Linked DNA regions of Homo sapiens. The protein of the gene in region 4 interacts with the protein of the main gene of each other region in a pairwise test. Each region holds a gene or a part of one and is shown on either strand. Other genes may lie near its edges.

The links.
Region 1: the proteins of MISP (region 4) and HSF2BP interact in binary tests that used the Homo sapiens proteins (3 or more experiments, as listed by UniProt).
Region 2: the proteins of MISP (region 4) and VBP1 interact in binary tests that used the Homo sapiens proteins (3 or more experiments, as listed by UniProt).
Region 3: the proteins of MISP (region 4) and PIH1D2 interact in binary tests that used the Homo sapiens proteins (3 or more experiments, as listed by UniProt).

What each region holds. Positions count from the first base shown.
Region 1 is NC_000021.9:43,607,487-43,614,509, reverse strand, and holds part of HSF2BP (heat shock factor 2-binding protein), read left to right. Parts: intron 1-562; coding exon 563-680; intron 681-4,520; exon of another isoform or gene 4,521-4,623; intron 4,624-7,023. UniProt on the Homo sapiens protein: Meiotic recombination factor component of recombination bridges involved in meiotic double-strand break repair.
Region 2 is NC_000023.11:155,219,458-155,226,480, forward strand, and holds part of VBP1 (prefoldin subunit 3), read left to right. Parts: intron 1-725; coding exon 726-850; intron 851-7,023. UniProt on the Homo sapiens protein: Binds specifically to cytosolic chaperonin (c-CPN) and transfers target proteins to it. Binds to nascent polypeptide chain and promotes folding in an environment in which there are many competing pathways for nonnative proteins.
Region 3 is NC_000011.10:112,071,012-112,078,708, forward strand, and holds the start of PIH1D2 (PIH1 domain-containing protein 2), read right to left. Parts: upstream 3,007-7,697; 5' UTR 2,969-3,006; exon of another isoform or gene 2,919-2,968; intron 2,195-2,918; 5' UTR 2,164-2,194; coding exon 1,987-2,163; intron 748-1,986; coding exon 624-747; intron 273-623; coding exon 27-272; intron 1-26. Other genes in the region: uncharacterized protein NKAPD1, read left to right, coding at 4,564-4,632, 7,204-7,304.
Region 4 is NC_000019.10:746,962-754,134, reverse strand, and holds the start of MISP (mitotic interactor and substrate of PLK1), read right to left. Parts: upstream 3,024-7,173; 5' UTR 2,964-3,023; intron 1-2,963. UniProt on the Homo sapiens protein: Plays a role in mitotic spindle orientation and mitotic progression.

The DNA.
Region 1 (7,023 bases), on a different chromosome or scaffold from region 4:
GACTTGGTTAGATTCCAGGGCTCTGTTTCACTCTTTCGGCGCTTGCTAATCACACTGCACATTACTTGATATTTCAGTAACTCTTGTGGTTGTCAGTGATTCTTTCTGAGCTGTCATTTTTGTTGATAATTTTTTTTTTTTTTTTTTGAGACAGGGCTTTGCTCTGTCACCCAGGCTGGAGTGCAGTGTCATGATCATGGCTCACTGCAGCCTCTACCTCCTAGGCTCAAGCAATCCTTCTGCCTCTACCTCCTGAATAGCTAGGACTACAGGTGCACACACCGTGCCCGGCTAATTTTTAAATTTTTTGTAGAGATAGGGTCTTGCTGTGTTGCCCAGGCTGGTCTTGAACTTGTGGCCTCAAGCAGTCCTCCCACCTCAGTCTCTCAAAATGTTGGGATTACAGGTGTGAACAACCATGCCTAGCAATTTCATTTATAAATGCCTCATTTTCAGCTGTGTTTTCATTAGGTCTTTTAGGAGAAAATACTCTGTTCTGCACAAAATTGTCTAGGTTCTGAGTCATAATGATCTTGATGTTTTGTTTCATTTTCTGTTGCAGATGTTGCTGCTATAGCATGTGGTCGTGAATTCTTGGTTAATTCAAGCCGGGTGCTCTTGGACACCATATTGCAGCTTCTGGGAGACTTGAAGCCAGGACAGTGTACCAAACTCAAAGTGTATGGTGGATAATGTTAAAAAGTTAATTCTATTTACATATTAATTAGACTGTGCTGATTGGGCCTCTCTTCAAGTAAACACAGTTAATTTTGGTGGTAGTTTTAAAAACTAGAAGAAATAAATTCCTGGAGAAGTTAAGGGCGTGCACTGTCTCTTAAATAGCATTTTAGAAAATAAATTTAAGGAAGGAATGTTCTCACCTTAGAGCAATCAGTGAGTCCCAGTATTATCACATGGTACTTCATGGGTATGTCAAAATGAATTTAAATAGGTATCTGTCTTCCAGCTACTAAAATCTGTATTTGTTTTCTATTTTTATGTAACAAATTATCACCAACTTGGTGGCTAAAACAACACCATTTATTATTTCATAGTTTGGCAAGTCAGAAGTCTGAGTGGGTTTGAGAGGTTCTCTGCATAGGTCAAAAGTGAGGTGTTTTCCAGGGTGGGATCTTTTCAGAGAATCTAGGGGAGGAATCTGCTTCTGGGCACTTTGAAGTGGCTGGTAGAGTCCAGTGTCTTGGTTTCTAGGAGCGAGTTCCCTGTTTCCCAGCTGGCTGGTCAGCTGTGGGTCAGCTGCTGAGGCAGCTTGCATTGCTTCTCACAGGGACCCCATCTTCAAGCCACAGTCGCTCATTGAATCCTTCCCACGTTTCCAGTCTCTGAGACTTCCTCTTCTGCTACCAGCAAGATGAAACTCTCTCTGCTTTTATTCTTTTGTTAAAAAGTTTACTTCAAGAAGGCAAAAACTCTGCTTCTTATAGATTTGTGTGTTTAGATGAGGCATACCTGGATAAACTCCTTTTGATTAACTCTTGAGTCAGCTGGTTAGTAACCTTAATTACATCTACAGAATCCTCTTTTCCAGGCAATGACATAATCAGCGTGTGATAATTTATAGTCCCAGAGATTAGGGCAGGAAATCTTGGGGAGAGGGGCAGTGTAGGATTCTGCCACTCACACTGTTCGTTCTGAGTGTTGCCTTTGACTTCTTAGAGCATCTTTATTTTTTAATTATTTTTTTAAAGAGACCGAGTCTCTACAGACCTTGCCTAGGCTGGCCTCAAACTCCTAGGCGTTCAAATAATCCTTCCACCTCAGCCTCCTGAGTAGCTGGGACTACAGGCATGTGCCACCATCCCCTGCTGTGGAGCACTTTTTTTTTTTTTTTTTTTTTTGAGACGGAGTCTTGCTCTGTCACCCGGGCTGGAGTGCAGTGGCGTGATCTCGGCTCACTGCAAGCTCCGCCTCCCGGGTTCACACCATTCTCCTGCCTCAGCCTTCCAAGTAGCTGGGACTACAGGCGCCCGCCACCACGCCCAGCTAATTTTTTGTATTTTTAGTAGAGACGGGGTTTCACCGTGTTAGCCAGGATGGTCTCAATCTCCTGACCTCGTGATCCACCCGCCTTGGCCTCCCAAAGTGCTGGGATTACAGGCGTGAGCCCCTGCGCCCGGCCTAGCACTTTTAAAAAGTAAGAGCTTCTGTAAAGTCTGTGCCAGGTGCTTCCAACACCTGTGTCATCCTGGCCTCGGTGTCTCTTGATTGTTTTTTCCCATGAGAGTTGAGATTTTCCTGTTTCTTCATATGCCAAGTAATTTTGGATTTATCCTGGACATTTACGTGATCACTGGTCTTGTTTAAATCCTTGGGAAATGCTGGTGTTTATATTTTCACAGGCAGTCAACCCCTTTGGGTCAGATTCCAGCCAGCCTTTTCTCTGTTTGGTTTCAGTGTGTCGTCCTGTTTTCAGAGTCTTTACAGTGCTATTGGAACTGCCCCTCGTGAGTGCCGCCCAGTGGCCAGTCTGAGACCTGGGTGGTCTGGATCTTAGGTTCAGAGTCTTTCAGATACTGTTTATGATCAGATCCACACAGGCACAACTTGGGATGAGGCCAGGAATTTATAAACAACTTTTTGGGGTCACTTTTCTGAGCTGTTAACTCTCTGGGTACACTTTAGTTACCTGGGACTGCCTTTTTCAGTCCCCCACCTGGAATGCTGGGGCTTCATATACCCTGCTGTGTCCAAGTGCCTGCAACTCTGCCCTCATCCCGCCCTGCGGCAGGAGTTGAGAAGCTCTTAGAGCTTTCAGGTGTAAGGAAAAAATTCCTTTCCCCCAGAGTTTGAGTTACCTGGGGGATGTCCCCACTGCTACCGTGCTTGGTTGCTGGCAGGAGACCCCTTTCCCACTCCTTGAGCCTCACTAGAGACCTTCTCCTGGTGCTCTCTGTGTGGCTCAGGGCTACTTTTGGGTTTTGGAGCTCCCTCGAGTCCAGGCCAGGGACACTAAAGGAAAAAGTGGTAAACTCTCTGCTGGTTTAGTGGTTCTTAAAATTTTGATCTTCTTCCCCTATCTGCCTGCTACTGTTTACTTTTCAGAGTCCTCAAATAGCTGCTTCATGTATTCTCTTTGGAATTTATAGCTGCATTCAGTGGAAGCGAGACTGGAGGGTGTGTTCAGGCCATCTTATCCAGAACCAAGCTTTCTAGTCCATTTTAATATTTTGTGCTAACAAATATCTATACATACATAATACATATAATACAGTGTAACATATATGCAAAAAAAATTTTTTTTTTGAGACAGAGTCTTGCTTTGTAACCCAGGCTGGAGCACAGTGGTATGAACATGGCTCACTGCAGCCTCGACCTCTTAGGCTTAAGTTATCCTCCCAGCTCAGCCTTCTGAGCAGCTGGGACCGTCAGTGCATGCCACCATGCCTGGCTAATTGTTAAATTTTAAAAATTTTTTTGTAGAGACGGGGTCTCTCCATGTTGCCCAGGCTGGCATAGATGGTTTTGTTTGGGGGTATAATTTTACAAATTGCTTGTGGATCTAGTTCATTCCTTTTAAGTACCTTGCATCAAAGGAGATGTAATATTTGGATTATCCTTCCCTGACTGATGGGCATTTAAGTTACTTTCGGGTTTTACTTGACAAATATAATGCCGTAGTGAGCATCCTTGATAAACTCTTTGCTAACCTGTCTGAGAGTTCTCCAGGAGTTTTCCCAGAGGAAATATTTGAGAAGTAGTACATGGACATTTTCAATTTGATAAGATACTGCCAAATTGGTCACCATAGTGTACATTTCTACCTGCACCATGTCAGTGTTCGTGTTTCCCACGTCCTTGTCAGCACTTTGCTATTTATTATATTCCTCTAAAGAGAAAAAATATATGTGTATATGGAGAGAGAGGTGCCGGGGGAAGAGGGGGAGAGACAGGGTCTTGCTGTGTTACCCAGGCTGGAGTGCAGTGGTGCAATCACGGCTCACTGCAGCCGCGACCTCTGGGGCTCAAGTGATCCTCCCATCCCAGCCTCCCAAGTAACTGGGGTCCCAGCTACTCTGCACGCCACCATGCGCAGCTAATTTTTTTTTTTTTTTTGGTATTTTTTGTAGAGACAGGGTCTCACCTTGTTGCCCAGGCTTGTCTCAAACTCCTAAGCTCAAGTGATCCACCTGCCTCAGCCTCCCAGAATGTTGGGATTACAGCGTGAGCCACTGGACCTGGCCTTAAAGAGTATTTTTATCATCCACCTATCATCTGTCTGTCTTTGTCCTTCTCTCCCTTCCTTCAGATTTAGATTGCCAGTGAGGTTGAGGCTCTTCACATGTTTGTACCATTCCAGTTTTTCCTTTGAGTCACCTGTCTGTGTCTTGTGCCCACTTTCCTGTTGGGCTGCATTTTTCTTAGTGATCTGCTGTAGGTCTTTGTGTGTTCTGGATACTAATCCATTGCCTCTTTTGCTTCTGTGGTCTGTACAAGGTCCATATTTATGGGCCAGCTAAAGTCCCCCTTCAACTTCCAAGGCAAAGCTGTGTGTGAGGGCTGGGTCACTTCTAGCCTCTCCGGTTCCAGTCCCTGGAGCTCTGTGCCTTTGGGTCCTGGTGAGCTCTTGTTGATTGCAGTGGGAGATGGGGAGAATTGCCTTCAGAGCCATTCACTGACTTTCTTGGCAGTCTTCCATTTGGCCACTGAGCAAAGCCGCGTGTTTACCCTCTATCCTGACTCGGGATCTCAGCATGCACCAGCCTGAGAGGGGCCTTCCCCCTGGGATCTTTGGCTGCCTTCCAACATGCTCATGGCTTGTTCCGTCTCACCACATCTCCAAGGCACTCTTCTCCCCTCTTTTCACCTCCCCCACTTCACTAACGCCCACCCTTGAGTCCTCTGGAGCCCCAAGACCTTTCTCATACTATAAATCAGCCTCTTTTCTTCCTGGCCTCCCCCTGCCTTGTGTATAGCTTGCCTCTCTCTGGGGAACTACACTTTCACTGCCACTTTCATGATCGAAGGTCACTCATTTTCAGCAGTTAGTACCTTAGACCCAGAGATAGGGGTTATTTTTTTCCTAGTTGCCCATTTTTTAAAAAAATTTAAATTTAAATTTTAGATTCAGGGGGTACATGTGCAGGTTTGTTACAAGAGTATATTGCGTGATGCCAAGGTTTGGGCTTCTGTTGAATCTGTCACTCAGATAGTAGATATAGTACCCAATAGGAGATTTTTCAGTCCTTGTTCCTCTCCCTCCCTCTCTCCTTTTGGAGTCTCCAGTGTCTCTTGTTCCCATCTTTATGTCCGCGTATACCAAGGGTTTAGCTCCCACTTATAAATGAGAACATGCAATATTTGGTTTTCTACTTCTGGATTAATTCACTTAAGATAAGTGGAGGCAGCCTCCAGCTGCATCCATGTTGCTGCAAAGGACATGGTGGTGGTCTTTCTTTCTGGCTGCGAAGTATTCCATGGCTTGTATGTACCACATTTTCTTTATCCAATCCACTGTTGATGGACACCTGGGTTGATTCTATGTCTTTGCTATTTTTGTTTTGTTTAGTTTTGTTTTTGAGACAGGGTCTGGCTGTTCCATTCACACTGGCATGCAGTGGTGCTATCTTATCTCACTGCAGTCTGAAAATCCTGGGCTCAAGCAATCCTTCTGCCTCGGCCTCCCAAGTACTTGGGATTACAGGCATGTGACATCATGCCTGGCTAATTAAAAAAAATTTTTTTTTTTTTGGTAGCGATAGGGGTCTCACTTTCTTGCCCAGGATAGTCTTGAACTCCTGAACTCAAGTGATCCTTTCACCTCAGCCTCCCAAAGTGCTGGGATTTCAGGCATGAGCCACCACTTATCTTTGCTATTGTGAGCAGTGCTGTGATAAACTTATAAGGGCAGGTGTCTTTTTGGTAGAACAATTTTATTTTCCTTTGGCTATTTACCAAGTAATGGGATTGCTGGGTTGAATGCTAGGTCTGTTTTTAGTTCTTTGAGAAATCTCCAGACTGCTTTCCATAGGTGCTGAATTAATTTACATTCCCACCAACAGTGTATACGAGTTCCCTTTTTTCAGTGGTTTTGCCAACATGATGTTTTTTGACTTTCTAGTAATAGCCATTTTGACTGGTGTGAGATAGTACCTCATTGTGGTTTTGATTTGCGTTTCCCTGATGACTAGTGATGTTGGGCATTTTTTCATGTTTCGTTGGCTGCTTATATGTTTTCTTTTAAGAAGTGTCTGTTCTTGCCCTTTGCCTGCTTTTTAATGAGGTTGTGTGTTTTTTCTTGTTGATTTGTTTAACTTAACTTCCCTATAGATTCTGGATATTAGACTTTTGTTGGATCCATAGTTTGCGAATATTTTCTCCCATTCTGTAGGTTGTCTGTTTACTCTGTTGATAGTTTTTTTTGCTGTGGAGAAGCTCTTTATTTTAATTATGTCCCAATTGTCAATTTTCGGTTTTGTTGCAATTGCTTTTGAGGACTCAGTCAAATTCTTTGCCTAGGCCGATATCCAGAAGACTATTTCCTAGATTTTGTTCTAGGACTTTTATAGTTTGAGGTCTTACATTTAAGTCCTTAATCCATCTTGAGTTAATTTTTATCTGTGGTTAGAGGTAGTGGTCCAGTTTCATTCGTTTACATATGGTTAGCTATTTTTCCCAGCACCATTTATTGAACAGGGAGTCCTTTCCTCATTGCTTATTTTTGTCAATGTTGTCAAAGGTCAATTGGCTGTATGTGTGCAGCTTTAATTTCTGGGTTCTGTATTCTGTTCCATTGGTCTATGTGTTTATTTTTGTACCAGTGTTATGCTGTTTTAGTTAGTGTAGCCTGGTAGTATAGTTTGAAGGTGGGCAGTGTGATGGCTCTAGCTTTGTTCTTTTTTCTTAGCGTTGCTTTGGCTATTTGGGCTCTTTTTTGGTTCTATAAGAATTTTAGAAGAGTTTGTTCTAATTCTATGAAAAATGATGTTGGTAATTTAATAGCAATAGCATTGAATCTGTAGATTGCTTTGGGCAGTTTGGACATTTTCATGATATTGATTCTTC
Region 2 (7,023 bases), on a different chromosome or scaffold from region 4:
TCAGTTATTTGATACTGAAGGAAGCATTTGTGGATTGCCTTGGGAACCCAGTAACCATATTTAGTATGATTTCTATGGTAAAACTTGTTGAATTAAAAATAAGTAATAAAATTGATAATCTTGACATGCAACCTGTAAAATCATTTTGTGAATAGGATGCATGAATAGGCAATGTATTTGATTGTTAGTTTCATATTTACTACTAGGGATGCATGGGAAATGCATAAAGTGGTGGGCAAGGTCATTCTTCTTTTCCTATTTTTGAATAAAAAATGAAGAGGAAAGTGAAAGAATAAATTAGCTATATAATATATATGTACCATCTGAAATTGTCTCTAACTTTTTATAACTACAGGTTGAGCATCCTAAATCTGAAAATCTGAAATCCAGAATGCTCTAAAATCCAAAACTTTTTGAACACCAATATAGTGCTCAAAGGAAATGCTCATTGGAGCATTTTGGACTTTGGATTTTTGGATTGAGGATGCTCAACTGGTATAATGTAAATATTCCAAAATCTAAAAAAAAAAAAAAAATCTAAAATCCAAAACAATTCTGGTCCCAAGCATTTTAGATAAGGGTGCTTAACCTGTACTTTTAGTTAAAAACAAACCTTTGGAGAAAAACAAAGCTTTTTTTTCTTCTATGTTTTAAAAACAAAGCAGTCAAAAAATCTGAGTGGCATGAATTCTAAAATTTGTAAAGTATTATTTTTGATATTAAAGGAAGATGTAGATTCCTTCATGAAACAGCCTGGGAATGAGACTGCAGATACAGTATTAAAGAAGCTGGATGAACAGTACCAGAAGTATAAGTTTATGGAACTCAACCTTGCTCAAAAGAAAAGAAGGTAAGTGTAAAAATTTCTAAGTTTTGAAAATCTTATATGACTTGAACTTTTAAAAAATTGAGATATAATTTACATATAATAAAATATTCAGATGTCAAGTGTTCAGTCCTCCAAGGTGGCTGTACCATATGAAATTCCCACCAGCAACGTACAAGAGTTCCAGTTGTTCCGTATCCTTGCCAACACTTGGTATTGCCAGTCTAAATGTGGTTTTGAAAACATAATAGAATGGTTGTTAAAGACTGTATTCCAAAGCTTTCAAAATCATAACGTCTTATATGTCTAGTTCATCCTTCTAATTTTGCCAGTGAGATTAGAGACCCACAGAGTCTGGGCATAAGACTTAATTAGTTATGAAATCCCAAGATTTCATAACTAATAGGCATAGGAAAAAAGCTATCCTTACTCTCAACTCTTTATTTCCCTACATTATTTTATATAGCTTATAAAGTCAATTCACTGTAATAAATATTTATAGATCTCTGTTTTGTGCATGTGCCAGCATTCTTCTGTAAGATAAATATTTATGGAATGCCAGCTAGATGCCACATACTGTTTTGGGTGAAATAACATCCAGTATCTGCTTTCAACAAGGACACAGGACTGGGCATGGTGGCTCAAACCTGTAATTCCAGCACTTTGGGAGGCTGAGGTGGGAGGATCACTTCAGTCCAGGAGTTCAAGACTAGCCTGGGCAACATAGGGAGACCCCCGTCTCTACAAATAATTAAAAAATAATTAGGCTGGGCCCGGCGGCTCGCACCTGTAATCCCAGCACTTTGGGAGGCTGAGGTGGGCAGATTGCCTGAGCTCAGGAGTTTGAAACCACCCTGGGCAACATGGTGAAACCCCGTCTCTACTAAAATACAAATAAATTAGCCAGACGTGGTGGCATGCGCTTGTAATCCCAGCTACTCGGGAGGCTGAGTTGGGAGAATTGCTTGAGCCCGGGAGGCGAAGGTTGTAGTGAGCCGAGATTGTGCCACTGCACTCCAGCCTGGGCAACAGAGTGAGACTCCATCTCAAAAATAATAATAGTAATAATTAGCTGGGTATGGTGGCATGCATCTGTGGTCACAGCTCCTCTAGAGGCTGAGGTGGGAGGATCGCCTGAACCCAGGACGTTGAGGCTGCAGTGAGATGTGATCATGCCCCTGCACTCCAGCCTCGGCAAAAGTGCGAGACCCAGTCTAAAAAGCAAACAAACCACACAAAAAACTAGGGACACAGTTTGGTGGAAATTATAGGTATATAAATAAAATTAGCACACAAAGTAGAACAGTAGAGGTACAGGGGGATGGTAACTCATTACTTTGTACCAAAGCACCTCATTAACCTGGAGGGGCCAAGGAGGTTCAGAGGAAGCTTCTAAGAGGAACAGATAGCTGTGTAGAATTTCAAAGATTAGTTGTGAGTTTGGAGGCAGACTAAAGTGAGGAAGGGGTAGTCTGGGCCTAAGGCACCATTTATGCAAAGGTACAGAAGTTTGTAGGTATATTTTCTCATTTGATTTTGGTGACAGTTGTACAAAGTTGAATATGTACTGAGTATTAGATGAGATGAAAAGTCATTGACATGGAAAGATGGAGAGTGTTAATGGACAGAAGCAAGATAGAAAACATTAAGAACAGTGTGCTCTCGTTTTGGAAAAAAATGTATGTATGCACAGGAATATCTGGAGAAATCCACACTAAAGGCATATTAACAGTGGTAATCTCTGGGTAGTTAGAATATGGCATTTTTCTTGTTTTTGCTTAGCTGTTTTCTTAATTTTTTACAATGTACATGTACTGCTTTTGTGATAGTAAAAGTTTATTTGAAAAAGAAAAATAAAGCCATTGGATTTGAGATCACCTACAGGGAGGTTACAGATAGAGAAGAAAATGTGCCTTGGGGCGGGGTGCAGTGGTTCATGCCTGTAATCCCAGCACTTTGGGAGGCCAAGGTGGGCGGATCGCTTGAGCCCAGGAGTTCAAGACCAGTGTGGGCAACGTGGCAAAACCCTATATCTACAAAAATTAGCTAGGTGTTGTGGTGCATGCCTGTAGTTCCAGCTACTAGGGAAGCTGAGGTGAGAGTATTGCTTAAGCCAGGGAGGTTGAGGCTGCAGTCAGCTGTGAGTGTGCCACTGCACTCCAGCCTGGGCAACAGAGTGATGATACCCCGTCTCAAGAAAGAAAAAAAGGAAAAGAAAATGGGCCTTGGGACCAAGTCCTGGGAGAGGGGGAAATTTGCGTATCAAACTTAAATTGCTCTTCTAACTAGTAAATTAATGATAGACAAAAACAAAAAAAAGAAAAAAGTTATATTGCTAACTCTACAACTGTGGTATGTAGCAGGATACTCACTCTAGCTTAACATATGGTCTAGGCCTAAATGTGGGGAGAAGGGGTAAAAATTCAAAGCACTTAGGAAACATCAGTGAACGTTGGTGTTCTGGATGAGAACAGTGTTTGTCTAGTGTTTTAAAAGAGAATGGTAGAGTTGGAGATAGTGAGTTAGGAAAATTTTCTTGAGTTTTACCTATTTTAATAGTGGGTTGGTCATTTTTTTGAGACAGGCTTTCTCTCTGTTGCCCAGGCCAGAGTGCGGTGGTGTGATCACAGCTCACTGCAGCCTTGACCTCCTGGGTTCAAGCAATTCTTCCATCTCAGCCTCCCAAGTAGTTGGAGGGCTACTTTTCTCTTTTTATTTTTCTGGAATTTCTCTCACTCCTATGATGTCAGCTATGCAACAAAACTATTTTTGTGTCATGATCTAGTTGTTTTGCAGCAGATGGCTCTATGTAGTTTACATGCTAGCCTTTTTGTTTTTTTTTTTTTTCAATTTGCTATTATTTTATTTAGGATTTTTGAATTTCTGTTCATAAGTGAGTTCAGCCTATTTCTTTCTTTTTTTAATTTTTTTAGTATTGATCATTCTTGGGTGTTTCTCGGAGAGGGGGATTTGGCAGGGTCATAGGACAATAGTGGAGGGAAGGTCAGCAGGTAAACATGTGAACAAAGGTCTCTGGTTTTCCTAGGCAGAGGGCCCTGCCGCCTTCCGCAGTGTTTGTGTCCCTGGGTACTTGAGATTAGGGAGTGGTGATGACTCTTAACGAGCATGCTGCCTTCAAGCATGTGTTTAACAAAGCACATCTTGCACCGCCCTTAATCCATTTAACCCTGAGTGGACACAGCACATGTTTCAGAGAGCACGGGGTTGGGGGTAAGGTTATAGATTAACAGCATCCCAAGGCAGAAGAATTTTTCCTAGTACAGAACAAAATGGAGTCTCCCATGTCCACCTCTTTCCACACAGACACAGCAACAATCTGATCTCTCCTTCCTTTCCCCACATTTCCCCCTTCTCTATTCGACAAAACCTCCATCGTCATCATGGCCCGTTCTCAACGAGCTGTTGGGTACACCTCCCAGACGGGGTGGCGGCCGGGCAGAGGGGCTCCTCACTTCCCAGACGGGGCGGCCGGGCAGAGGCACCCCCCCACCTCCCGGACGGGGCGGCTGGCCGGGCGGGGGCTGCCCCCCACCTGCCGGACGGGGCGGCTGCCAGGCGGAGGGGCTCCTCACTTCTCAGATGGGGCGGCTGCCGGGCGGAGGGGCTCCTCACCTCTCAGACGGGGTGGCTGGTCAGAGACGCTCCTCACCTCCCAGACGGGGTGGCGGCGGGGCAGAGGTGCTCTTCACATCTCAGACGGGGTGGCTGGGCAGAGGCGCTCCCCACATCTCAGAGGATGGGCGGCCGGGCAGAGACGCTCCTCACTTCCTAGACGGGATGACGGCCTGGAAGAGGCGCTCCTCACTTCCCAGAGTGGGCGGCCGGGCAGAGGGGCTCCTCACATCCCAGACGATGGGCGGCCAGGCAGAGACGCTCCTCACTTCCCAGATGGGGTGGCGGCCGGGCAGAGGCTGCAATCTCGGCACTTTGGGAGGCCAAGGCAGGCGGCTGGGAGGTGGAGGTTGTAGCGAGCCGAGATCACGCCACTGCACTCCAGCCTGGGCACCATTGAGCACTGAGTGAGCGAGACTCCGTCTGCAATCCCGGCACCTCGGGAGGCCGAGGCTGGCAGATCACTCGCGGTCAGGAGCTGGAGACCAGCCCGGCCAACACAGCGAAACCCTGTCTCCACCAAAAAAATACGAAAACCAGTCAGGCGTGGTGGCGCGTGCCTGCAATCCCAGGCACTCGGCAGGCTGAGGCAGGAGAATCAGTCAGGGAGGTTGCAGTGAGTCGAGATGGCGGCAGTACAGTCCAGCCTCGGCTCGGCATCAGAGGGAGACCATGCAAAGAGGGCGAGGGCGAGGGTGAGGGTGAGGCTAGCCTTTTTCTTTGTATGTGTTGTAAATCTTGCAGCCTGTCATTTAACTTTACCCTTCAAGCTGTGTAAAAGTTCCTTAGTATTTCATGTGTTAATCTCTTTTTCGACACTTGAATCTGAGATCTTTTATCTTTCTTTAATTGGAAATTTTGTGATTATCACTTTTTCTATCGTCTGTTAATTTTTTTTCCTCTTTCTTTCTGGGATTCCTGTTTACAGATGTTGACACTTCTAATTCTGCCTTCCATTTATTTATATTATTTCCCTTTTTTCTGTCTTTGTCATTTATCTTTTGGCAATTAGATGGATAGCCATGAGTTCTTTGTTTCAGCTGTTAAGATTTTTATAGCTGGTAGTTCTGGTTGGTTCCTCTTCATATTACCAATATCCTTTCTTTTCTCTTTGTGGTATCTTTAAGTATTTAATGTATAGTTTTATCTTTTGGTATTTGTTAATTTTGTTTCATATGGTAGAGGTTGTTGAATTTATTGTCTTTATTTATTATAATGATCAAATTATAATGTCTTTTCCCTGTCAGCTTAGATTCCCTCAGGGATATCAGCTACTTTGGCCAGTAATGTACGTGGAGGTGGGGGTAATTTAAGTCACTCCTGGTGGGTAGCAGTGGCGCTACCTCGGCTCACTGCAACCTCCACCTCCTGGATTCAAGGGATCCTCCCGCCTCAACTTCCCAAGTAGCTGGGATTACAAGCATGCACCACCACGCCCAGCTAATTTTTTTGTATTTTTTTTTAGTAGAGACTGAGTTTCACCATGCTGGCCAGGCCGGTCTCGAACTCCTGGCCTCAGGTGATCCACCCGCTTCGGCCTCCCAAAGTGCTGGGATTACAGGCGTGAATCACTGTGCCCAGCCAAGCTACTTTCTCTTCAGGTGAAGCAGGGTAGGGAGGAGTGTATTGCTTGGGCATGTGCTGTGTCATTGGTGGTCTGGTTCCTAAGTTAGCTAGGGCTGCATCTGATTGATTCATTAATATGCTTTATAGCATATTACATATAATATTTATATATACAGAATGCATCTTAAAAGTCATTTACATGACAAAAAATCTTGATCTGAACATACTCCTTATGTTGTGTGTGTATCACATATTTTACAAATGTATAACATCTTTCTGTTTACCTATATGAACATATCATGCAAAAATAAGCAAACTTGAGCAATCTATGGCATCCAGATTGAATTGTAGTGAAAAAATGAATGCTAGGTGTTTCTAGATTATTCACTGGACTGTATTATCAAATGATGACACTATGTTTTTTTCTTAAGCAGCAGGCTCATTTAACACATTTCTTGCCAGGTCAGTAGCACAGGGTGTAGTAAATTTGCCCTGCCAACCTGCTGCACACATGGAGTGACTTCTTTTATGTGACGCAATAAGTTCATTTTCATTGTTGTGTTTATATTTTGTTTACATTTTGGTCTCTAATAATATTTAGTAAATTTACCTCGAAAGAACCAGAGCTTCGTTTTTATATCCTTAGTCTGTTTTGCTAGAAATTACATTTGACAGAGACCCTAGAACTGTTTTGCATATATCTCCATGCAAAACACATGCATCTAATTACCATAAAGAGCTAAACCCCAGTGACAAAAACGGTATCATTGTTTTCTCTCTTTAATTGACTGAATGTTTTTAGCATACTGTTTTTCTCTTATGTTCTTGTCAGTGAGGTTGATTGCATTTGGGAGTCACTTACTAGCATTTTGCTAGTAGCTATCATATAACTTATCCATTAAGTCGGATCAGTTGTATCATGTCCATCATTGTTTTTTTAAATTTCTTGTGTTTAAATCAGTGATCCATTTATAATTTTAAGAACGATCGTTACCTCA
Region 3 (7,697 bases), on a different chromosome or scaffold from region 4:
TTTTCCATTTACAATCATCAACTTACCCCTTCTCATTTTTTCTCTTAAATCTATGGAATCAGTTTGGATTCCCATCAGATTTTGTTTCATTCTTTGAATGCTTCCTTTTATTCTAAATTTGGTAATATGGTAAGAGTGTGAGAGGGTGAACTGGAATTTCTCCTCAATGCATTTCATGGCCATCTGAATTAACTGATTTTTTTTCACTTGGTCCTTTTCTGCTGCATGAAGAACATCAGGATTGTAGGCAACATCAATGACTGTGTAAGCATCTGTGTGTGTAATTGAAAGGGTATGAAATGAAGAAAAATTGTTGCACTAATGATACTGTCAGGCAATATATTAAACCATATTCCTGATAAAGCTAGAGAATATTCCTGTATTTTTCAGAGGTAATCACAGTAGTGCTACAGCAATTATGACATTTCTTGGCACTTTTGCATGGATTAAAACAGCTCACCTTATTACAAAAGTTAAACAGTATTAAATTTGCATAAAGATACACTAATTGTAATTATATTATCAACAAATAAAGAGTTTTACTTGAAATGCTCTCAACCAAGTAAGATCTTGTCCATTCCTAATAAAATTTTTACAATGTGCTTTCTCTCAATTATTTGTACCTGATATCTCAGTTGTATCTTCTGGTTTGCCAACAGTTAGAGGTACTGGATGAGTGGTTGATTGGGGAGCTGGGATCCTTGTCCACTGACACAGGTTGATAAAAAGTATTTTTTCTTTTGGTTTCTGGAAAGCAAATAATTTTGCACATCTCAAAACCTAGTTTAAAACCATTTAAGGCCAGGCATGGTGGCTCCCGCCTGTAATCCGAGCACTTTGGGGGTCCAAGGCGGCCGGATCACCTGAGGTCAGGAATTTGAGACCAGCCTGGCCAACATGGTGAAACTCCGTTTCTACTAAAAATACAAAAATTAGCCAGGTGTGGTGGTGGATACCTGTAATCCCAGCTACTCGGGAGGCTGAGGCAGGAGAATCGCTTGAACCCAGGAGGCGGAGGTTGCAGTGAGCCAAGATTGTGCCATTGCACTCCTGCCCGGGTGACGAGAGTGAAACTCCATCTCAAAAAAAACAAAAACAAAAACATTTAAAAAATAATATCCTAAAAGCCACTCACCACAGGAATGAAAGAATTTTAGGCTCCAAGTAAGTCATTTCATGTATTAAAACTGCGTTTGATTATACTGTTGTTATTTGATTTCCCCAAGGCTGCTGGCTTTTAATTAGGAATCCAGACTGGGGTGGTGGCTCACGTATGTTACCCTAGTACTTTGAGAGGCTGAGGTAGGAGGGTTGCTTGAGGCCTAGGAGTTCGAGATTAGCCTGTGAAACATAGGGAGACCCTGTCTCTACAAAAATCATTTAAAAATTAGCCGGGTGTGGTGATGCCCACCTGTGATCCCAGCTACTTGGGAGGCTGAGGTGGGAGGATCGCTTGGGCTGCAATGAGCTGTGATTGTGAGCTGTGATTGTGCCACTGCACTCCAGCTTGAGCGACAGAGCCAGCAAGACCCTATCTCAAAAAAAAAAAAAAAAAAAAAAAAAAAAAGTCTGCCAGGCGCAGTGGCTCATGCCTGTAATCCCAGCACTTTGGGAGGCTGAGTCAGGTGGATCACCTGAAGTCAGGAGTTCAAGACCAGCCTGGCCAACATGGTGAAACCCCGCCTCTACTAATAATACAAAAATTAGCCGGGCATGGTAGTACACACCTGTAATCCCAGCTACTTGGGAGGCTGAGGCAGGAGAATCGCTTAAACCCGGGAGGCAGAGGTTGCAGCGAGCCAAGACCACACCATTGCACTCCAGCCTGGTGACAAAGTAAGACTCTGTCTCAAAAAACAAAACAAAACAAAACAAAACAAAAAAAAAACAAAAAAAATTAGCAATACCTAAGTGTAAAGTATTCTCTGGTTATTCTGGGATCATTTCATTCAAGACCTCCCCATCCCTGGCACCAACTCGACATACCAGAATCCTGGTCTGTAGACAAAGCTGTGGTTCTGGGGCAGCACAGAGCTGTTTCCCTTCTTTCAGCTGCTGCTGAATAAACTTCTCATAGCCCTCAGGGTCACTCTGAGCTAGATCATCTAGGAGGTTCCAAAACTGAGTAACTTGGGTAAGCAGACCTTTTGAGGATGTCTCCATGACTTATGAGTGGTGAATAATTTTCTTAAGCCTGTGGAAAAACACGACTTCAGGAAGAAAACTGTCTGTGTAATTATTGATTCATTTCTGCTTTGGGGAGGTGGAATGGGTCAGGAATTGTTTTGGTGAAGTTAGGACAGCATTTGTGTCTAAAAGGTTGTGGATCAGCACCACTTTATGTTTTCCTTATTCTTTAATTATCTAGTACCTCTTCCTAAATTCTCACATTGTCCTCTCAGATAAGGCCTTACTTCTATTTGGACCCTGACAAGTCAGAGTAATCATTTTAAGTCTGGGTTTCCTGATCTTCTTGTTCCAACACCTGACTGGTGGCTCCCCAGTTCTGAAATTGCCAGAGGTGTGGTGTGGGGTGAGGGCCACATAAGACTTCCTTAATCCTCAGTATAGTTTAGTATTTCAAAGCATGGACTTGTGAGCCAGAATGCCTAGATTCCGGTCTTAGTTCTATCTCTCACTAGCTCTGTGACCTTGAGCAATTAATGTTCTGTTCAAAATGAAGACGATAATACCTCTACCATAGGATTATTGCGAGATTAAGTAAGCTAATAGAGAGGCTGGGACACTTCTCTACGTCTTCAGATAAATCTCCTTAGCCTCTTCTCCCATTGGAGAGGTGTCCCACAGCATCTTTAGAATGAGGAAAAGAGGTTTAGATTCTTCAATTACTGTGTAAGGGTTATGCTAAACGGGAAACTTAACTAACGGATAATCATTCCATAGGTCTGCAAACCCACCTCTTCTCTCAGTTCTAACGGGTAATCATTCTATAGGTTGGCAAACCCACCTCTTCTCTCAGTTCCTTGACAAACCGCGACGCCTGTTACCAGGGTAACCAGCCTGGGTACAACATCTAATTGGGTCCGGGGAACTTCAGGGAGAAAAGTCTCTTCATATCTAGTTCCGGAATGTCCCCCTTCTGGTGCCAGGCTTGCTTTTCAGTTGGGCCTGACCCACTTCTCTTCCAGGAAAGCGCCCGCCTTCCTTCTGCACCCGTCAACCTCTGGAGTGTCCTGAAAACCCTCCCTTGTGGGAGTCTCTGGGCTGCCTGTTGGTGGGACGATTTCTCAGGAGCACGACTTCCGGCCTGAAAAGGAAGTCTCCTCCTTTTTCTCCCAAACCACTTCTTCCCCCCTACCCCCCGCCACGCGAGGCTGCGGCGCACGGTATGGGTGTGTTTGTGTGTATTTGTGTGGGGAGGGCGTTTGGAGGGAAGGTTACCGGGAGCTCCGAGGCCGCTGGGGAACAGGGATCCCGGTGACAAAGATGGGGATATTTCCTCTGTCTTCCACTTGGAAACCTCAACCCCCGCTTCAGGCTCCCTAGATACTTTCTGGGGCCCAACCGAAGGCCGTAGCCATCCAAAGCGTTCCCAGCCTTTCTGGGGAGTGAAACTTACCCCCGGGGTTCGTCCTAGAGGAGCGTGAGCGGGGAATGCCCAGGTCAACCGGGCTGTCCGAATTCCGCCCCGGCTCAGCCTCCGGCCTCAGTCCGGGAGAGAGATCTGCCTGTCGGTCTGGGCTGGGGGAAACGCGGCAGTGGCCTGGGCCACAGGTGAGGGCAGAGTAACCAGTGGGAAGGCTGCGTTTTCACGAAGGACTCGGGTGAAGCTGCAGAGCTGCCTTTGAGCCCTGACTCCTTGGCTTCCTGGGTCGGAGGAGATCTTGTAATGGAGTGGTTCTTCGTCTCACTAGCAAGATGCCTGATTTCCTCAGGATCAAGGGGTGAGTGAGCGTTGGGGTGGTTGCACAAAGCTCCTGCTAGCTACACACGAAAATATTCTTGTCATCTAGTTTTTGGAAGCTTCCGTAGCAAGTAGGAAATAAAATGCCCCCAAATGGAGAAATTTAGGACATCTTTGCATTTGATGTTTTGAGTAATCAGTTTCTGTTACTGTTGACACCCGTGGTTCCTGACACTCTCAAATCTACGTATTTGCTTCAGTGCAAACTATATTGGGATTGGAGGTTTGATTTTTAATTTAGACAGTGACATACATCATTTGCCTGGGACTATGTGGCTTGGGACGTTACAGCTTTAAGGGAACTTCATCTACAAAATAGGGATGGAGATACTTGCCTCATATAAAAAGTAGTTATGAGGATTAAATAAAATGGTGCTCATGAAAGCACTTAATTTTATGTAGTCTTGTGCATTTTCAAAGAACTTTAATGTACATTATCTCCTTTCATCTCACATTAGTGTGTTTAGGCATTTCCCTCTTTTAATGGTAAAGGGAAAACTATTCTTTAGAATCTCTGACTTCTAGTTCAGTGATCTTTCCTGTACCTCATATGCTTCTTTATAAAACTTCAAGAAAAGATAAAGTAATAACAGAAATTATTACTAAACGTTATTTGTTGATTCATTTCAGATTGAAGAATGTCCCGGATTCCACTGGGGAAGGTCCTCCTGAGGAATGTCATCCGGCACACAGATGCTCACAATAAGGTGGGAGGTACAACCTAGTTACTCCTCAACGCTTACTGAAGGCAAGCAGTGTGCCAAGCATTATTTTGGAACAACTGGGAGATACAAAGAATATTCTTGTCATCTAGTTTTTGGAAGCTTCCGTACACAGTAGGAAATAAAATGATGAATAAAATAGATAATTATAATACAGTTTGATAAGTACTGTATAACAGAGATATTTGCAAAGTGCTTTGGAGCACTAAGGAGGAAATAATAAAATCTACACTGGGGAATTAGAAAAGATTTTACAGAATTAGTGGTATTTCAGCTGCTGATCTTTGAACTGGTTCTTGAATAGGTATACGTTTACCAGGTATGAAATATCATTCTGGATAGACAGCATCATGCATTAATATGGCAACGAGAAAGAGCATTAATCACTTGGGGCATGGCAAGAAATTTATCCAGAAAGCAGGGAAGGTAGGGGATAGTGGCAGAAGATAAGGCCTCAGTGGTAATTAGAGTTGGATTGTGATGTTTGGAGCTGAGACTTCTTCCTCTAGGCAATAAAGAAGCCATCAAATGTTTTTAAACAGGGTGTGGCATGATCATAGTTATATTTTAGAAAGATGGTTTGTCAGCTGGGTAGGGAATGAATCAGATGGGGAGATACAGAAGGGAGAGTAATTAGGAGGCAATTGCAGTATTACAGGTGAGAGATGATGAGGGTTCGCATGAAATTAGTGACAGCAGGGATGAAGAAGAGGAATTTAGGAGATAGAATCCAAAGAAGTTGGTGGCTAATTAGATTATAATGATAAGAATGGAATCTAATTCAGTTGACCCTTGAACAATGCAGGGGCTAGGGGCATCAACCCCCTGCATAGTCGAAAATCCATGTATAACTTTTTACTCCCTCAAAATGTAAGTGCCAATAGCCTACTACTGACTGAAAGCCATAGCGATACCATAAACAGTGGATTAACACATATTTTTTATGTTACATGTATTATATACTGTATTCTTATAGTAAAGTAGCTAGAGAAAACAACATTTCATTAAGAAAATCACATTGAGTAGGCTGAGGAGGAAGAAGAGGGACTTGTTTTGCTATCTTACAGGTGGCAGAGGTGGAAGAAAATCTGAGGATAAGTGGACCTGCACAGTTGAGATTCCTGTTGTTCAAGGTCAACTGTGTAACCACCTATGTGACTGGGTAGATGATGACAATTCTGTTAATTGAGATAAAGAACAAAAAATGGGACAATTATGATAGGAAAGGTAATTAGTTTGGTTTTCAACATGTTGATGGTGAGGTGCTTATAGGATGTCCAAGCAGTTGAAAATTCAGACTTGGAGTAGAGGAGAAAAGTTGGGGCTGGACATAAAGGTTTCGGGATTATTGATGTATAGGTTGATGATAAGAGGTCATGAGAGTAGATGAGGTCACCTAGGAGAGCACATATAATGAAAAGAGGGCCAAGGCCCCTGGTTTAGTTTTCTTCAGTAAACTGTACTACTTTTGGTTTGATCATATTATTATTATCATATCACCTGATTTTTAAAATTATGGGCGAGGGTAAAACTGTTACCCGAGCTGCCTATGCAATTATGTTAACCTGCCCCTAGTTATATAGTAAGCTTAGATTTAAAATGGTAGCTAGAAAAAGATAAATCTAGCACAGATCTAATGAAATTATGCAGGAAGACTTAGAAATAAAATGTGTTCTTTGGGTAATCACATTCTGCTTTTCAAGAAATTCCCTAGCAGCCATACTGATTATTTTATTTTATTTTATTTTTGACAAAAATTATAATATTACCAGAAGAGATTTAGCTTAGGGAGTTTAAAGACCTGTCCTTACTAGTTTTTTGACTTTGTTAAAATCTCTGAGCTTTTGTTTCTTTACAGTAAAATGTAATAATGGTAGCTGCTATATTTTCCTCATGAGATTGCTTAAGGTTCAATTGAGATGATATAATTAAAATCATATTGCATTTTGGAAATGTGGCATTATCATTTGCTAATCGCAGCATAATTGCAAGATTGATAAGGTGATGTTTGTCTGTGCAGCGGTTTAAAAATTCTATTGGGGAAGATTTCCACATATTTGAGATTTACTGGATTGGACTGTTCAGCCACTTTCTAGAGAAACCAATTTGTTTTCCAGGTTCCTGATCATAGCCCAGTCTGTAGCCCAATAATTAGTCAGATTGTATTTTCAGTTAGTTGCTTTTTTTTTTTTTTCTTTTTTTGTTGATACAGAGTCTCACTCCATCGCCCAGGCTGGAGTGCAGTGGTGCAATCTCGGCTCACTGCAACCTCTGCCTCCAGGGTTCAAGCGATTCTCCTGCCTCAGCCTCCTGAGTAGCTGGGATTACAGGTGCATGCTACCACGCCCGGCTAATTTTTGTATTTTTATTAGAGACGGGGTTTCACCATGTTGGTCAGGCTGGTGTCAAACTCTTGACCTCATGATCTGCCTGCTTTGGCCTCCCAAAGTGCTGGGATTACAGGTGTGAGCCACTGTGCCCGGCCAGTTAGTTACTTTTCTGTAATGTAAAGTTATTTTTAGTAACTTATTTTTATTTCCTTTTTAAAAATTCTAGATTCAGGAGGAATCAGATATGTGGAAAATAAGAGAACTGGAAAAACAGATGGAAGATGCTTACCGGGGGACCAAAAGGAAAATGCTACCCAGCAGTTCAAGGTGAAGTTGCAGCTCTGAGAACTAAAATAATTCTCATCTTTTTCAGAATCATCAACTTTTGTTTAAAAATACTTTGGTATATTAAGGATAAATTCAGTTCTGTGAGTCCTTAAGCCTTCCTTCTTTCGTAAATCTAGACCCAGGCATAAAGATAATGGCTGTGACGCATATGGCCCTGCTCTTTGTACTTATTTACAATGGAGAGTTAAAAAATTCTACCTGAACAATTATGAATGTGTAGGGTTCTGTGGATTCTAACCTTACCTGATAGCTTTTAACTGAAGATTTTATACTGGAATCTTGTGGTCACTAAGCTGATCAGTCATTCTATTCTCTATTAATCTTTCATTCTTTCAGGCTTTTCTTTTTGTAGCTGGAACTGCAGGTGCATGC
Region 4 (7,173 bases):
TGTTGGCCAGGCTGGTCTTGAACTCCTGACTTCAGGTGATCCGCCTGCCTCGGCCTCCCAAAGTGCAGGGATTACAGGCGTGAGCCACCGTGTCCAGCAGACATCATCTTTCATAGTTGAGGAAAGGAAGCCTCACCTGAAGACACAGGGATCTCAAAAGCTTGAGCTCCTGACTCCTAAAAAAAGCACTGTCGGCTGGGCACAGGGGCTCAGGCCTGTAATCCCAGCTACTTGGGAGGCTGAGGTGGGAGAATCACTTGAACCTGTGAGGTGGAGGTTGCGGTGAGCTGAGATTGTGCCATTGCACTCCAGCCTGGGTGACAGAGAAAGACCCTGTCTCAAAAGAAAAACAAACCCCCACAAAGCAGGACTGTCGCTCCCGGGCCACCAAGGCTATTATTTAGATCTGCTGCCTTTACACCAACCAGCAGCATTTTTTTTTGTTTTTAAACAGACAGGGTCGGCCAGGCACAGTGGCTCACACCTGTAATCCCAGCACTTTGGCGGATCACGAGGTCAGGAGATCGAGACCATCCTGGCTAAAATGGTGAAACCCCATCTCTACTAAAAATACAAAAAAAATTAACCGGGTGTGCTGGCGGGCGCCTGTAGTCCCAGCTACTCAGGAGGCTGAGGCAGGAGAATGCTGTGAACCCGGGAGGTGGAGCTTGCAGGGAGCTGAGATCGCACCATTGCACTCCAGCCTGGTGACAGAGCTAGACTCCGCCTCAAAAAAAAAAAAAAAGAAAAAAAGAAAAAAAAAGAAAAACTTAGCCCCTCTCTGAACTGGAAAGTGGCATCAAACAGCATAAAGTGGAGAGACCGTGGGGAGCCGTGTTGAAACTACACGCAATGTGTCATGCAATCTTCCGCGCGTATCAAATGTCAGAAACTAAAATAGGGGAAACATTGAAAACCAGGCGGCATTGGTGAATAAATCCCACACAAACAGCTGAGCTTCCTCCCAAAGCGTGACGCACAGATGGCTCCCCTGACCCGAGGCCTCCTCCTCCGTGGACGCCGCCTGCCCAGCTCACGGAAGGCCTTGCCTTCTCCCACCCGAAACCGTCAGCCCAGGCCTCGCTCTCGCCTGCTGTGGCCACAGGTCAGCACCCTTCCTGCAGCCCAGAGTCTGGTATACAGCAGGCGCCTAATAAATACTGGCTGGGCAAACACCACTCATCCCAGCTGCTCAGACGTGGGGGTCGGGCTCATTGCGGAATGCAGACCGGCTCCACCGTGCCTTCTGGCCCTGAAGGGCTGGGCAGGTCCACGCCCTGCACCCTGGAGCTCCCCGGGGAGGGCGGGTGTAGGAATGTTTGCCCAGTGAGTGGACAGACGTTTACACAGCGGGATTTATAACCCACATCAGACGTCAACTCCGGGAGAAAGGGAGCTGTCCGCCCAGCCTCGAGCAGGTGCCGGGTCTCCCAGTGGGGTCGGGGTTGGGTGGGGATGAAGGCACGCATCCTCCTCTGCTCATTCCTCCCCAGTGATTCACTGAAGCCAGCGGGTGGGGCCTGGGGTCCAGCTCTTGGGTTCAAGGCCACTGGGCCCCCTCCCCTGCTGCCTGTGCCTCAGTGCCCACCCCCGCCCCCCGCTTTTTTTTTTGAGATAGAGTCTCCCTCTGTCGCCCAGGCTGGAGTGCAGTGGCGCGATCTCCATTCACTGCAACCTCTGCCTCCCGGATTCACACCATTCTCCTGCCTCAGCCTCCCAAGTAGCTGGGACTACAGGCGCCCGCCACCACGCCCGGCTAAGTTTTGTATTTTTAGTAGAGATGGGGTTTCACTGTGTCGGCCAAAAAAACCCCTGGATCCACGGCGGCTCTCATGGCCGGCATTCTTGGGCAGCGGCGCTGCCCTCGGGGGAAGAGCCCCAGGACGGAAGATGGCCCCTGCAAGGCCCGGCGGTGGCTAAGGACCTCGGCGTCCTGAGACTCTTCCTGCAACACCTTGGAACCGTTTTCGACTCCGGTTTTCGAGAGAGGGAGCTGGGACCCAGAGAGGAGAACCTGCTCATCTGAGGTCACACAGCGATGACAGAGCAAGTGTCTGAAGCCAGTTTTCAGACTTTGCTCCAAATCACCCCCTCCTACAGGAAGCCCCCTGGGTTGCTCCTCCCAGCCTCACCCTGAACTCTGTTGATACCAGAATGAAACTGGGTTTATGGACCCTGGTGCCACACCTCCTTCCTCATCAGCCAGTTGGCTCTATGTGAGGGGCAAAGGTTCCCTTGTGGGGCCGAGACTCAGACAAGGAGGCCATGCAGAAGGGAGGGCCCCGTTCCTTTTTCCCATCCCTCAGGGTTGCAGTCACCCTTGAGTCATCTCAGCTCCTTGGGCTCCTGGGCGGAGCTCCACCGGCAGACGCTGGGCCGAGTCCCTGCTGGCTGCCCGGGATCCCAGGCTACCACCTCACCCCCACCCGAGGACCCAGGCCAAGTCCCCAGCCCCGGCCTGAGACTCCTTCCGCCTGTACTCAGCCACCCCTCCTCCGTGTCCCCAAACCAGCCCCCAGCCCCACGGGGGTGTTTACTGCCCAGAGCCTCCCAGTCAGGGGCCTGGTGGGACGGATAAGCATCTCTCCAGAAGCCTCTGGAATTCCCAGAACCATGGAGGGGCCCCTCTGGCCTCTGACCATGGGGGTGCCAACCCGGCCCCTCCCTTGGAGGGCTCTGGGATTTGGGGTTCAAAAGCCCCAGCAGAGTTCAGGGACAAGGGCCTCTCTGCTCTCCCAGTGGGTGCCCTTGAGGCCCCAGAGTACCTAGCGGGGGCAGAGGGAAAGGTGCCTCAGGGAGGCTCCGAGGGTGACGGGGTGGGGCAGGGGGCCTCCCTGGATCCCAAGTGCCGCCAGGCAAGCAGACCCCGCCCACAGACACATGACGCTCCCACGCCAAATGTGGATCCAACCGCCCCACACAGGATCCCCGCCCGGCCCGGCCCGGGGCGCCCCCAGCCTCACCTGCCGGCTCCCGGCTCCACAGTCTGCAGCCTCCACTCTGACTCCTCGATGGGCACAGAGGCCTCCCAGCTCCGCCCTGCCCGCCAGGTTGCCAGGGAACAGAGGCCCCACCCAGGGGAGGCAGGTGTGCCCCCTCCCCCCAGCCCCACCTGGGATCAGGAAACAAAGTCCAGAGGAGGAGGAGGGAGAAAGAGGATACCAGGCTGGGCAAGGGCGGGCACCGTGCCCGCTGCCGGCTGCCCCTCCACCCCCAGGGCCTCCAGGTGGCCCCGAGGAGCCAGAACTCAGCCGAAACCTCCCTTGGCTGCCTGGCCCTCCCACCGCCTCTCAGCACCGCTCAGAGAGGGTCAGCAGGTGTCCAGGGCCACACAGCAGCTCAGCGTGCACAGTGGCCTGTGTCTCCTGGGGGGCCGGAGGGGCTGAGTCCCAATCCCGTCCGTGCCTTCTGGCCCAGCCCACCCCTTGGGGCAACTCCCCTAGATGGCCCCCTTCTTGCATAAACCAGGTTTGGCAGACTCGGGGGGGTTTGGTGTGGCCTGGGTTCTGATCCCACCTGACCTCTCTTAGCCCTGTTTTCTCCTCCGGGACGTGGGGGAACATCACGCCCGGGCTCCCTCAGGGCTGCTGGGAGGAATTCCCTAGGCCCCATCCACATAAAAACCCATACGAGGGGGCCGGACTTGGTGGCTCACACCTGTAATCCCAGCACTTTGGGAGGCCGAGGCGGGCGGATCACTTGAGGCCAGGAGTTCGAGACCAGCCTGGCCAACATGGCGAAACCCCGTCTCTACTAAAAATACAAAATTTAGCGGGGTATGGTGGCACGCTATTATAATCCCAGCTACTTGGGAGGCTGAGGCAGAAGAATCACTTGAACCCAGGAGTTGGAGGTTGCAGTGAGCCGAGATCACACCACTGCACTCCAGCCTGGGCGACAAGAGCAAAACTCCAACTCAAAAAAAAAAAAAAAAAAAAAAAAAAAAGAACCGCACGAGGCCGTCAAAAGACCCAGGCCACCCCGAGAGATGGGGACGCAGAGGCCCTCAGGCGCCCATGGTCCTCCTGGATTCTTAGTCAAGGTGCAGAGGCCTTGCTGGGACTGTGGGGAGCCCAGCATCTGTGGGGAAGTCGGGCCACTGGGCCTAGCGCCGTCTATGAGGGCAGGGAACACAGCTGAGGGGGCAGGGACTTCAGTTCCCCAGGCTGGGGCTCTGTCCTGACCTACGCCAGAGGGGCTGCTTGTGGAGCCCCTCTGAACCTCAGTCTCTTCTTCGAGTAAAAAGGCCCCCAGCTACGAATCCAGCAGGGCTGCTCAGGAGGGGGGTGCTTTTTTTGTGTTTTTTTTTTGAGACGGAGTCTCGCTCTTGTCACCCAGGCTGGAGTGCAGTGGCACGATCTCGGCTCACGGCAACCTCCCCTGTTCAAGCAATTCTCCTGCCTCAGCTTCCCTAGTAGCTGGGATTACTGGCATGAGCCACCACGCCCAGCTATTTTTGTATTTTTAGTAGAGACAGGGTTTTGCCACGTTAGCCAGGCTGGTCTCGAACTCCTGACCTCAGGTGATGCCCCCGCCTCAGCCTCCCAAAGTGCTGGGATTACAGGCGCGAGCCACGGCGCCTGGCCAAGATGGGGGTGTTTAAGGACAAATCTGGATAAAGGGCCCCCAAAGGACAGCGTGGCACCTAACGCTGCTGGGTGTGTGAAAGCTCAGGGTGCGCGGCCTCACGGCGCCTCCCACCGCCGCCTCCCGCCACCCCCTTCACGTCCTTTTCTCCCTGGCTTGTAGATAGGGAAACGGAGGTACGGAAAGCTTAAAATCGCGCCTCAGGAATGGCGGGGGTTTAGGCTGGAATTGGAACCTGAGTTCCCTCAGCAGTGCTCTCCACCACACTCACCACCTCATCGGGGAAAACTGAGGCCCCAGCAGGGTGGAGGCTGGATCGCCCATGAGCTGGGGGCACTGTGGAGACGTCCCACGCCCAGGCTGAGGCTGGCCTCCCACTCAGGGCTCCGAAGGCCTATTTTATTTTATTTGAGACAGAGTCTCGCTCTGTCGCCCAGGTTGGAGTGCAGTGGCACGATCTCAGCTCACTGCAGCCTCCGCCTCCCAGGTTCAAGCGATTCTCCTGCCTCAGCCTCCTGAATAGCTAGGATTACAGGCGTGAGCCACCACGCCCGGCTAAGTTTTTGTATTTTTAGTAGAGACAGGGTTTCAGTATGTTGGCCAGGATGGTATCGATCTCTTGACCTTGTGATCCGCCCACCTCGGCCTCCCAAAGTACTAGGATTGCAGGTGTGAAACACCGTGCCCGGCCACGAAGGCTTATTTTACAGATGGGAAAACTGAGGCCCAGAGGAGGCAGCGACTTCTCCAAGACTACAGCGTGAGAGAGTGGGGCTGGCGGGGCAGCACCTTCCCGTGAGCATGACACTGGTCTCTACAGACACCTCCTCCCCAGGCCTCCTGTGTATTTCCCAGGGGCCGGCTTCTCTACAGAGCTTGTGGGTGTCCAGGGGACCCTCTGTCATCACCCAGGGGCTGTGAGCCCAGCAAAGGGAGGAACAAAGGACAGGACGGGGCGGCCGCAGAACCCGAGGGCCCCCCGGGAAGCCAGTCCTGCCCCCCCACAGCAGCCCCTTACAGCCAGGCCTTACCTGCACAGTGGGGATTCCAGCGCCTCCCACCACCCCAAGGCGCTCAGGGTGAGCGGGTGCAGGCAGGTGAAGCCAGCACACCGCAACCCTGCTCAGCCTCCCTTTAATGGCTCAAAGGCCGGCAGGCCCCACCCCCTGGCCTGGCCACGCCTTCCTCGCCAGGTTGAAAGGCAAGAACTCCAGGAACTGGGGCTGTTCACGCTGTTTATTTGCTTCTCTGGGAAAATCAAGAACATCGGGGGCCTCGTCACACACCAGAAGCAGAGGGGGTTATAGCAAGGGCACTTCAGCGAAGGCTCGCGGCTCGAGGGACTCAGGCAGACTCCAGGGAGGAGGAGGGGGTTCCACGGCTGACGCCCAGGTCACCCCCGAGAGGGCCTCTCCTCCCAGCCACCCAGGGGCAGAGCGGAGGCAGGGACCCAGGCTCCCATCCGAGGTGGCCCCTGTACCTGCCCTGCCGAGGCTGCAGGTGGTGACTGGACCAGGAGGTGGCCTGAGCACTGGGCACCAGGCTGGAGGTCCCTAGGGCAGGGACCAAGTTGGGGCCTGGTTGTCCAAAGCCAACGTGTGAGACGGTGTCTGTGAGAATGTGCACGAATGTGCCTCTGGGGACGAGTGTAGCTGCCCCCAGGAGGGAAGCCCCTTGCCACTTCCAATGAGAGGGGGCTGGGGGCAGGCTCACATTGGTCTGGGTGGCAAATGAGGGTCTCCTGCTCCAACCCAAGAGGCTTCCTGTCCCAGGCTGTGTCCCTCCCTCCACTGCCCGGACGTGCTCCAAGCCCAGTAGAGCTGGCAGGTGGGGCCTGATCTCGGGGTATGGTTGGGAAGACCCAGGACCCTGGTCCAAGCAGGATGGAGAAGAGGCCGGGGGCGGCCCCTGGGGTCCCCAAATTAGCACCAGGAGGAAGGAGGGCCCAGTGGGGGCGGGAGCTCGGGACAAGGAGTGGCTCACTCGGTCCCTGCCCTGTGCAGGGGGCAGGTCAATGACCCCTGGTTCGCCCCGTCTAGAAGATAGCCCAGGGGTTACCGGCCCCTCCCGGGTGGGGGCATGTCCCCGGGGTTCCCCCTCCCCCAGACTCCATTGTCCACTGGTTGGGCCCACACAGGGCATAGGGGCACAGCAGAGGGGCCTGTCCTCCACCCAAGACCTTTAGCCCCCAAAGAGGCACGGCCTCACCCCAACTGCCTGAGATTGGGGGGCCAGCGCCTTGGCCAGGGAACCCCATAGAGCCTCACTTCCAGGGCCTGAGCAGGCCTCAGTACCCACCCCCGGCTCCCGGGGCCCTCTCTGGCGGGGTGTCCCCTCAGAGAAAGGCACAGGTAGGAGGCCCAGAGGGTGGCAGGCTGGCCTGGGCCGCGTGGAGGCTGCGGGTCCCACCCGCCAGGACCCCGGTGGGCGCGAGCCGCGTCTGTGAAGCTGCCGTGACATGGGGGGTCCTTGTCTCGGGAAAAGCGGGTCTGTCCTGTCTCTCTCCTACCAGGCACAAGTGCACGGCTCTGGTTCGGGGGGAGTGTTGGGGCGTGGTGACGGGTGGGGGCCCCTGTCCCTCTTTCC